Linked DNA regions of Homo sapiens: region 2 is linked to region 1. The links come from fine-mapping of genetic effects on gene expression. A gene starts in region 1. The other region holds a variant in brackets. All regions are shown on one strand. Distances are from middle to middle. Region 1 holds the start of EEF1D (eukaryotic translation elongation factor 1 delta). Region 2 overlaps MROH6 (maestro heat like repeat family member 6).

Region 1 (5,323 bases):
CAGGTCAGGAGGGCAGGGCCCTGAGGAAGGTGAGGACATCCTGGAGAGCTGTGGCCACCAAGGTGCTGCACGGCCTGGAGGTCTCCACACATCTGGGCAAACGGAAGCTTTCTGGGAGGAGCTGGCTCCCAGGCCCTGCCCTCCACGCCACCCCATCACAGTCGCACACACAGACAGGCTCCCAGATTGTCCACCCTCCACAGGGAGAAGTCAGGGAGGTGGGCAGGGGACGGGGTCAGCCACCGGCTCAGCCTGTGCACGCCCACCCCTCCCAGCAGCACCCCTCTCCGGCCCACCTGGCTGGCCTGAGTCTGTGGACTGGCACTGCCTGATAGAACTTTCAGTACCTTCAGTGCCCAAAGGGCGCGACGACTAGCCCTTAAAAGAGGCTGGAGCCCCTGAGGAAGCGGGTCTTTAGGCAAAACCACCGCACGGCAGAGCAGCCACAGGACAGATCAATGTCTTCCTGCGTGGAGTGAGGCCTTCGGTCTTTTTTTGAGACGGAGTCTCACTCTGTCACCCAGGCTGGAGTGCAGTGGCGCGATCTTGGCTCACTGCAACCTCCAACTCCCCGGTTCAAGCGATTCTCCTGCCTCAGCCTCCCAAGTAGCTGGGACTACAGGCATGCGCAACCACGGCCAGCTAATTTTTGGGTTTTTTTTGAGACGGAGCCTCACTCTGTCACCAGGCTGGAGTGCAGTGGTACGATCTCAGCTCACTGCAACTTCCACCTCCCGGGTCCAAGCAATTCTCCTACCTCAGCCTCCCAAGTAGCTGGGATTACAGGCGTGTGCCACCACACCTGGCTATTTTTTCATATTTTTAGTAGAGATGGGGTTTCACCATGTTTGCCAGGCTGGTCTCGAACTCCTGACCTCAGGTGATCTGCCTGCCTTGGCCTCCCACAGTGCTGGGATTACAGACATGAGCCATGCGCCCAGCCTAATTTTCGTATTTTTAGTAGAGACGGGGTTTCACCATGTTGGCCAGGATGGTCTCGATATCCTGACCTCATGATCTGCCTGCCTCGGCCTCCCAAAGTGCTGGGATCACCAGCATGAGCCACCACGCCCAGCCGCCTTTGGTCTTTTTAAGAGAAAAAACTCCACAGTTCCACATTCCCACTCAGCCACTTTCCTGTCTGACCCCTGGATATTCCAGCCCCACTGGGAAACGCCAGCCTGTCCTGCATATCTCAGAGCACTCACTGTAGCTACCCAACCCACCCTGCCCCAGGCCAAGCCCCGCCCCAACCACGTCTTTTCTTAAATGCCACTGCAGGCCAGCTCCATGGCCAGCCCTGCTTGAGGGGCTCTGGCCGACCTGCCTGCCCGGCGCAGCCCCTGTGCCTCCTGGGTGACTCCAGCACGGCACAGGCTTTCTGGAACCCCAGACAATACCCACGCCACACCTCACACGGCACCCTTGGCTGTCAGCGAGGTGGGAGAGCTGGAGACCTGTGGCAGGCTCCTACACCAGCACTTAGCATAACTCACTGCCACCAGCTTCCAACACGCTGATGTCACCTTAACACACTGGCACAGGATGATGACCCACAAATCCTCAATGCCACATTTCCTGTCCTCAGCCCCCAGAAGGCTGACGCCAGTGCACGGCACAGCCCAGGTACTCTTTGTCCATCATCAAGCACGTGTGCCCACCTGTGCTAAACCTTGCAGCCTCACCCAGCAACCCGGGAGCAAAGCCCAGAGGGCCTAGTCCTCCAGAGGAGGCGGGAGGCAGCGGGGGCTCTGTCGGCTGGGCGCTCACTCTGCCAGCACTGACTGCGTGTGAACCCTGCAGCAGCCCAGGGGAGATGCTGCTGTCTCACAGGATTGGCACTGCGCCCAGAAAGCCTCTACAGAGGCAGGTCTAGGAGCCTGGCTGGGCCTGAGGCATGTGGTGAGAAGGCGAAGGTGAGCGTCTACTTCCTCAGAGGACGCTCGGGGGCTCCTTCCACACCTGCCCAGCCCCTCAGCTGCATCCCCCACCCCCAGAACGGGGCTGGGCACACACGGGCTCCGGAAGTAACCAACTGCCTGCGAGCCAGCTGCTTAAGGCTCATGGGGTCCAGATGACGGGGTGGGCGGAGCTGTAGAAGGAGGCTGCTCAGGTGAGATGGCCTGGCCTGCCTCCCTGGGAGGTGAGCCGCAGGCAGTGTCAACTTAAGAAGCACCCCGCCCTGTCGGGCAGGGACAACCCCAAGTTTAGCTACACAGTTCTTCTGCTGCCAGGCGGTCCTTCATTCTGGAAACCAATCCTGACGTCTCATCAGGTCCCCAACCCACTCCGCCCCCTTTGCCTTCTTCCTTCCACTTAAAGCCTCTGAAAGTACTACTTCTTAGCAACAGCATCCCCGCCCCCTTCAGAGACTGCCCGACCACCCTATCCAAATCAAGAGACAGAAATTTTGACCCAGTCACAGTACAGGCTTATTCCTTTCCGTGCTCACTAGCGTCTAAGTTCCAAAAGTGTTGCGTCCGTGCCTATCCCCTCCGTGCTCAGCTGATGCGTGCAGTAACTGGTGCTTGACAAAGACGTGGTGTACGAAGGTCTGCAGGCCAGAGAAACAGCTGGGGCAGATGTCTGGTCTCCCACGGAGACGGCAGCAAACACAGGCCTTAGGCCCCAGCAGCCTGGCCGAGGGGCTTCCACGACCGGGATGCGCCGTGAGACAGTGCTCCCGGCGCCCCCGTCCCGCGGACGCCCTCCAAGCCGGCCACGTGGCCTCCGTCGCCCCGCCTCTCTGCGCTCGCCCCAAGTGCCGCACTTGGCCCACGGCCCCTAAGCCCGCGCTGGCGCACTTGTGCCTCAGTCCCTAACGGCGCGAGCTTCTGGCGCAGCCCGGGCCGCCCGCCCTCCCGGCCCCTCGGGCGTCTCTGTCGCGCCCGACTCCTTCCGGCGGGGGCCGCGGTACTCACACGCCAGCCAAGGACGCGGCGACCAAGGAGGAGGAATCGGCGGACGCGGGAAGACTGATGAAAGGGAGGGCCGCCCGGGCCGCGCACGGGAAATGAAGCACTGGGCTCTACCAAGAGCCACGGGCCGGGGGCCCGGGGGGGGGACGCGACCCTTGCACACGCCCCGCCTGGCCGCCAGGACCCTCGACGCGCCGTGCCCCGACACTTCAAAGGCAGAATTCCGTTGGAGATGACCGCGGAGGCCGCTCTTCCCCGGAGGAGTCTGCACAAGTGCTGGGAACGGGCGGCAGCGCGCGCGCCCCCCCTGCGCTTCGCGGCCAGTGGTGTCGCCGGTGGGGGCGGGTCCGGCAGCCGGCAAGCGCCGAGTGACGCACGAGGCGGCCAGCGCGCAGGCGCGGGGCGGGGCCGGGCCGGGCTAGGTCAGCGCGCGTGCGCCCGCCAAGCTGCGGGACAAAGGGGAGGGACCCGTGCGGCCCCGCCCCCGAGTGCCCCGCCCCGAGCGGCTGGGCGTGTGGCTCCCGCGACCCGCGCGGCCCGGGTCCCCCCCGCCGCAGCCATGTACCCCGCGGGCCCCCCGGCCGGCCCGGTACCGCGCCGCGGCCGCCGTCCCCTGCCCGGGCCCCCCGCGCCCGCCCCAGCCCCCGTCCCCGCTGCACGGCCGCCGCCCCCCGCGCCCGGGCCGCGGCCCCGCGTGGCCGTGAAGATGGCCTTCCGCAAGGCCTACTCCATCAAGGACAAGCTGCAGGCCATCGAGCGCGTCAAGGGCGGCGAGCGGCAGGCCAGTGTGTGCCGCGACTTCGGCGTGCCGGGCGGGACGCTGCGCGGCTGGCTCAAGGACGAGCCCAAGCTGCGCTGGTTCCTGGAGCAGCTGGGCGGTGAGGTGGGCACTCAGCGCAAGAAGATGCGGCTGGCCAACGAGGAGGAGATCGACCGCGCCGTGTACGCCTGGTTCCTGGCGCTGCGCCAGCACGGGGTGCCGCTGTCTGGCCCGCTCATCCAGGCGCAGGCCGAGGCCTTCGCGCGCCAGATCTACGGGCCCGAGTGCACCTTCAAGGCCAGCCACGGCTGGTTCTGGCGCTGGCAGAAGCGCCACGGCATCTCCAGCCAGCGCTTCTACGGCGAGGCCGGGCCCCCAGCCCCGAGCCCCGCGCCCGGCCCGCCCGTCAAGGAGGAGCCCGCGCTGCCCTCCGGCGCCGGCCCCCTGCCCGACCGCGCCCCGGCCCCGCCGCCCCCGGCCGAGGGCGGCTACGGGGACGAGCAGATTTACAGCGCCAGCGTCACCGGCCTCTACTGGAAGCTGCTTCCGGAGCAGGCTGCGCCCCCGGGCGCAGGGGACCCCGGGGCGGGGGGCTGTGGCCGGCGCTGGCGGGGCGACCGCGTAACGGTGCTGCTGGCCGCAAACCTGACCGGCAGCCACAAGCTGAAGCCGCTGGTCATCGGGCGGCTGCCGGACCCGCCCAGCCTGCGCCACCACAACCAGGACAAGTTCCCGGCCTCCTACCGCTACAGCCCCGACGCCTGGCTCAGCCGCCCGCTGCTGCGGGGCTGGTTCTTTGAGGAATTTGTCCCAGGCGTCAAACGCTACCTGCGCCGAAGCTGCCTGCAGCAGAAGGCCGTGCTGCTGGTGGCCCACCCGCCCTGCCCAAGCCCAGCTGCCAGTATGCCCGCCCTGGACAGCGAGGATGCCCCCGTGCGGTGCAGGCCGGAGCCCCTCGGTCCCCCGGAGGAGCTGCAGACACCGGATGGCGCTGTGCGGGTGCTGTTCCTGTCCAAAGGCAGCAGCCGGGCACATATCCCCGCACCGCTGGAGCAGGGCGTGGTGGCCGCCTTCAAACAGCTGTACAAGCGCGAGCTGCTGCGACTGGCTGTGTCCTGCGCCAGCGGCTCCCCGCTGGACTTCATGCGCAGCTTCATGCTCAAGGACATGCTCTACCTGGCTGGCCTCTCCTGGGACCTGGTGCAGGCGGGCAGCATTGAGCGCTGCTGGCTGCTGGGCCTGCGGGCTGCCTTCGAGCCCCGGCCCGGCGAGGACAGTGCTGGGCAGCCGGCCCAGGCCGAGGAAGCCGCCGAGCACAGCAGGGTGCTCAGCGACCTCACCCACCTGGCGGCTCTGGCCTACAAGTGCCTGGCTCCGGAGGAGGTTGCGGAGTGGCTGCACCTGGACGATGATGGGGGTCCGCCCGAGGGCTGCAGGGAGGAGGTGGGCCCAGCCCTGCCCCCTGCAGCGCCTCCGGCCCCAGCCAGTCTGCCCTCTGCCATGGGGGGCGGAGAGGACGAGGAGGAGGCCACCGACTATGGAGGGACCTCAGTGCCGACTGCCGGGGAGGCCGTGCGGGGGCTAGAAACAGCTCTGCGGTGGCTGGAGAACCAGGACCCCAGAGAGGTGGGGCCACTGAGGCTGG
Region 2 (5,353 bases), 28 kb before region 1:
CCTGGAGCCTGCCTGACCTTTAACCCTGCTGCCAAACTGACTCTACCTGGGGCCATATCAGGGACTATGGCCTATTACCCCAGCCTGAGCCAGATCTTGGACCAGGGTCAGCTCCCATAACCACACTCAAAACAGATGCCCAACGCTTTCCATCCACGTGTGTTTATTTTAGATGCTTTCTGTGTGGGAGCTGGGGAGACAGGTCAGTAGGACCCCACGCCTGTGCCTGAGGGGCCCCAGTCTGGGCAAGTGGTCCCAGCCCTTCACAAGGCTGCACACACTCCCTGTGCACTCGCAGAGGCTTCTCTGAGGAGGAGGCTGTGAAGGAGGCCACGAATGCAAGGACATTTCCAGGCAGGCATCCTAGGTGCAGGGACCTGCCGCCCAAAGCCAGAGAGGTGAGGTCACAGCATCAGTAGCTCCCAGAGCAGCCTCTTCCTCATGTGTCCAGTGGCGCGTTCCTCATTCAGCCCTGGGAGAGGTGTTGGGGTAGTGTCACAAGTGCTCGGTCTGATTGGGCGTGCACACAGGACCCCTACATCTGGACCCCCAGGTGTGATCTGGGGCCTACGTGGTCCAGCTTGGGAGGACGCCGGGGCCAGCTTCTGGAGAAGGCCAGGCTCCCATGAGGCCTGACATAATGAACAGGGGGTGATGATGGCCTGGCTGAGAGGGCACAGCAGGTGTGGCCGGGAGACAGGTCAATAATTTTGAGCAGAGAGGATGCCCGCCAGGAGCCTTAGGATGCTGGCAGGGAATGGGGTGAGGGATGAGGATCGGGGGTGCAGCTGCAGGGCTGGCCAAGGCCCGGACAGGCCACAGCGTCCTGTCCAGGCATGAGGTGGAGACCCAGGAGGGCAGGCTATGGGACCACCAACTTTGGGGTCCCCCAGCAGACTCAAGAGGCCAGGTGCCATCTGGGCCAGGAGCCAGGCCCAAGGTTGGGGCATGGGGCATGCTCCAGGGGGCTGTGAGAACAAGAGCCCTGACGGGGACAGATGGGTGCTGGCTGTCCCCCTCTGTCACCATCAGGGTGGTGGGTGCCTGAAGAGGGGTCACGGGGGTGGGGGGTGGGGGAGGGCATTGGCGTCCAGCACCAGGCCCAGGGAGCCCCTCCGTCAGGGCGGGGACAGGCTGCTATGCGCGTGGGGTGCCCGAGTCGGACCCTGGCCCTCGGGCCCCAGCCCCGAGCCTCAGGCTCGGCGGGGTCCGGAGCAGCCCCAGCGGCCCGCGACGCTCCGGCGCTGGAAGGGGCTGTCGGCGAAGACTGGTGGGGGCCGGGCGGGGCGCGGGGCGATGCGGAGAAGGCGGGGCCCGCGGGGGCAGCCCCGGGCACGGGCCAGCATCGCCACCTGCTGAGCGGACACGTGCGCTGCCGCGGCCACAGCCGGCTTGGGGTCGCTCTGCAGTCGCCCTAGGTCTGCGAGGAGATCGCGGCTCAGGCTGGGGAGCCCAGGAGGGCCGAGTGCCCGGGCCCCTGGCCCTCCACCCACCGCTCCCGTCCACTCCGCCCTAGCACCAGCCACGTCTCCAGGACACCATCCCCTGGCAAGGTGGGGCCTCACCCTGGAACAGGGAGTCCAGCAGGTCCTGGTTGACACAGCCGGGGCTGGCGTGGTGGACAAGGAAGCCTGGACCACAGCAGATGCATGAGTGCAGGCCCCACAGCCCCCCAGGGGGAGGCTGGCCCAGCTCCCAAAGCCCCGGTGCCAGGGGCAGTGTGACCCCGGGCGGCCTCACCTATAAGCACGGCGGCTGCCCGGCGCAGGGGGTCCTGTGGACTCCGCAGGTAGCCCTGGGTCTGGCTCAGGAAGTTGGGCACGTGGCCTGGGTATCGCTGAACCTGGGGACAAAAGGGCTAGTGGCAGGACAGGAGGGCTGATCCTGAGTGCGGAGGAGGCTGCAGAGCTGAATCCAGGGGCCGGGGTTCCAGGGGAGCCCCCAGGGCAGGTGGCATGGTCGGAGACCTTGGACTTGCCCCACCAGTAGCCTATCTGGTTTGGCTGCAGTAGAAACGGTTGGGGGCCCCGGTGAACCCTGGAACAAGTGGGCTGCTGATCATACCCCCTTGCGGTCACCTTGCTTCCCCTACTGACCAGGCGGCAGCAGAGGTGGCTCAGGGCCTCGGGGCTGTCATAGTGGGCCACGGTGACCAACTCCTCCAGCAGGCCCCAGCAAAAGGCGTGGTCACAGCGGGCCAGGGTCCACTCTGAGCTCTGGGATAGGGGAAGTGAGCCGGGTCAGGGGTCCAGGAAGTAGAAAGGCAAAAGGTGGGGTGGGAAGAGGGGGAGCAAGGGCATCGGGTGAGGGGCAGAAGAGCCCAGGGCAGGAGAC[T/C]GGATTGATTCTGCTCAAGGGAAGAGCAGTAGTAACCTGGCCGCCCGTCACACCTGCCACTGAGGTCCTTGGGATGGGTGAGTCCCTGACCTGTAATTGTCGGAGGGGAGGCACGGTGGGAGTGGTGAGTGTTGGATGGCATAGGGGTGGGATGGTGTCGGGGGCTGCTGACCTCAGCAGCGTCCCTGCTGGGGTCATGCAGGCGCAGCAGCAGCGGCACGAGACTCTGCAGCACCAGCTTCCGCAGGGGGCCGCGGAGCCCCAGCCGGAGCCCGCCCCGGCCCCGGCGCACCAGAGTCCCAAGGAGCCCGACGGCCGAGGCGCGGATTGAGTCCCGTGTCTGCGTGGGAGGGCGCAGTCAGGGCAGGCGGAGACAGAGAGGGGCTGCAAGGGTGGGAGGGGGCGGCCAGCGCGGAGCGAGGAAGCGGCGGGTCTAGGGAAGGCTGCTGACTCGGTGTGATCTGGGGACAGGGAACAGGGCCTGGAGCTGGACCTGGTTGGGAAGCCTGGAGAGCCCCTGCAGGGGGTGGGGCTTGAAGGGATGGGGTCCGGAAGGAAAAGTCGAGCGGGGAGGAGCTTGGCGGGACACGGCCCTGGAGGGGCGGAGCTGGGCGACAGCAGGCGGGAGGGGCGGGGGCGGTCAGGAGGGAAGAAATCTGGGACGGAGACACTGGGGGGACGGGGCCTGGGAGGGAGAAACTGGAGGGGCGGGGCGGAGCCTGGGAGGTCAGGGCCTGGGAGGGACAGACTGACAGACTGGGGGGCGGGGCATGGGAAGGAGAAACTAGAGGGGCGGGCGGGGCCTGGGAGGCGGGGCCTGGGAGGGAGAGACTGTAGGGGCGGGGCGGGGCATGAGAGGGAGAAACAGGAGGGGCGGGGCGGGGCCTGGGAGGGAGACTGGGGGCGGGGCCTGGGAGGGAGAGACTGGAAGGGCGGGGCGGGGCCTGAGAGGGCGGGGCCTGGGCGGGAGAGACGGGGGCGGGGCCTGGGAGGGAGAGACTGGAAGGGCGGGGGCGGTGACAGCGGCAGGGGCGGGACCCGGAGGCGGGGCGTTTGCTCACGTCGTCCAGTAGCGGAGGGAGGCGCGGTCCCAGCTCCGCGCTCAGGAGCCGCACAGGCGCCCGGGGCCGCAGCAGGAGCCTCCTCAGGGCGCCCAGCGCTGCACCCACGAGCCGCGCGTCGCCTTCGCCCAGTGCGCCCAGGAGCGCCGGCAGCAGCGTGCTCACGTGCCGCACCTGCTGGGACTCGGGGTCAGCCTCTTGCAGACCTCGCCGCGACCGGGCCAAGCCCCTCTCCACCCCTCCCCTTCTCTCACACCTTCCTGCGATTCAGCGCGAGGTGGCCCAGGCCCAGCAGGCCCAACCAGCGCACAGTGGGTTCGGGGTCTCCCTGCCAGGTGAGGAGTCGCTCCAGGATGACCTCCTCCCGCAGGAGCCGTGCGGTGGGCCGGCTCTGCAACAGCTAGGCGAGGCACATGGGGTCAGCACGCCCGCGGTCCCCGTGCAGGCCGCTGCGATTCAGGGATCAAGTCCAGGGTCACCCTTCACCACCCATCCGGGAAGCAGGCTCACCCCTGTGAAGAAGGCCATAGCCGTGAGACGCTGCGGGTCGTCCGCGCTGCGAAGCCGAGGGAGCAAGTCTGCGAAGAGGCCTCGCAGGTGGTGGTCGGCATGTGCCACCATAGCACTGGGGTGGGTGGAAATGGGAGCTCTCGCTCCGTTTGGCGGCCTTTCTCCTCGAGAAGACCCCATCCCAACACCACCCTCATGCCCCTGCCTTTTCCCTGTCCCCCTGCCCAGCACCTGGCCAGCAACGACTCTCTTCCTGGTGTGACACCCTGGGGCCCCTCCTCACCCTCCTCACCTGGCCAGCAGCAGGACGCCCTCCAGGTGGGTGTGGGCTCCCACCAGCCTCCTCCAGCCTCCTGCCTGCTCCATGCACGTGACCACCATGCGGCCTCCATCCCCGGTGAGCAGCGCCTTCAAGGCCTCCACAGCACAGCTGGTGGTGGGGACAGTGAGCAGGTGGGCAGTGGGAGCTGAGAGGGTGACAGCATGCTGGCCCGCCCCACGTAACCTGGTGTTGCCTCTCACCTGGCATGGCTATGTGGTGGCCCTCGGTGGGACAGAACCCAAATCTTGGGCATGTCGGGGGAGCACGGGCTGCGGGCCAGCTTGTGCAGCTGTGTGACCAGCGCAAGCAGCAGATGTGGGTAGAAGCCCCTCGTGGCTCCCACGCAGCCCGAAACAGCCAGCATCTCCCCAAGAGCACGTGTGGCCTGTGGAGCAAGTGGCCCACTCAGGCCTGGGGCACGCCTGGAGCTGCACTGGGCAGCAGAGGGACAGGCGTGCTGTCAACAGGATGGGGACAGCCTCAGACACGCATGGGACATTCCAGGAGCAGTTACCTAGGTGCAAACTCCCTATGCCCATCCTCCCCGCTCCTCGCCACCCCCCACCCCCGCCCCCACCCCCTGGTAATGGCTGGAGCCACCTACCGCCAGTGCCTGGGGCTCCGGCCCCGAAGCACCCTTCAGCGCCCACAGCAGTTGCACCAGCACCTGCCCATTTACACGCTGGTTACGGCTTAGGCTGCGCCAGAGCTCGGCTGCTACCCTGAGGGTTTGGAGGGGGCTGGTGTGAGACAAGAGATGGGTGGGTGTCCAGGGAATGTAGGGAGTCCCCAGCCAGGGTGGAGGCAGCCAGTAGGACTCCAGCAGGGGAGGGGCAGGAAACCCCTCCCATCTCCCCCCATCCCCAAATCTCAGAGAAACAAATGAAGGGTTAATTGTGCAGACCACAACATAGCCTATCTCAAGCTGAGCTGCAGGGTGGGGACCCACTGGGAGTCCCGTTGGGTCAGCGACAGTGAAACAAACCTGGCATTATTAAAAAGAAAAAAATTGCCACAGAGAATAAAACCAAAGATAACTTCTGGGGCCAATTAACCAAAGAGCCAGGGGTGTCCAGGCACGTTAGCCCCCCAGCCTCATTCACCCCACTCCGGAGCCAACCCCAGG

What was found.
Region 2: its variant is fine-mapped to the expression of EEF1D in whole blood (TOPMed, PIP above 0.99).

The regions. Positions count from the first base shown.
Region 1 is chr8:143,594,427-143,599,749 of GRCh38, forward strand. It overlaps EEF1D (eukaryotic translation elongation factor 1 delta), which reads right to left and starts at 2,989. Exons shown (of 10, transcript NM_001130053.5): 1 at 2,922-2,989. It overlaps TIGD5 (tigger transposable element derived 5), which reads left to right and starts at 3,405. Exons shown (of 1, transcript NM_032862.5): 1 at 3,405-5,323. The coding sequence starts at 3,478. RefSeq lists an enhancer at 1,637-2,236.
Region 2 is chr8:143,566,046-143,571,398 of GRCh38, forward strand. MROH6 (maestro heat like repeat family member 6) reads right to left here. Exons shown (of 14, transcript NM_001100878.2): 4 at 4,832-4,949; 5 at 4,428-4,612; 6 at 4,198-4,335; 7 at 3,906-4,020; 8 at 3,652-3,795; 9 at 3,396-3,569; 10 at 2,507-2,674; 11 at 2,097-2,216; 12 at 1,741-1,843; 13 at 1,566-1,631; 14 at 147-1,420. The coding sequence ends at 1,194. Among named protein-coding and RNA genes, the nearest start is that of MROH6, 4.0 kb to the right of the region's middle. RefSeq lists an enhancer at 5,236-5,353. The variant T/C (reference allele first, on the strand shown) is at 2,335.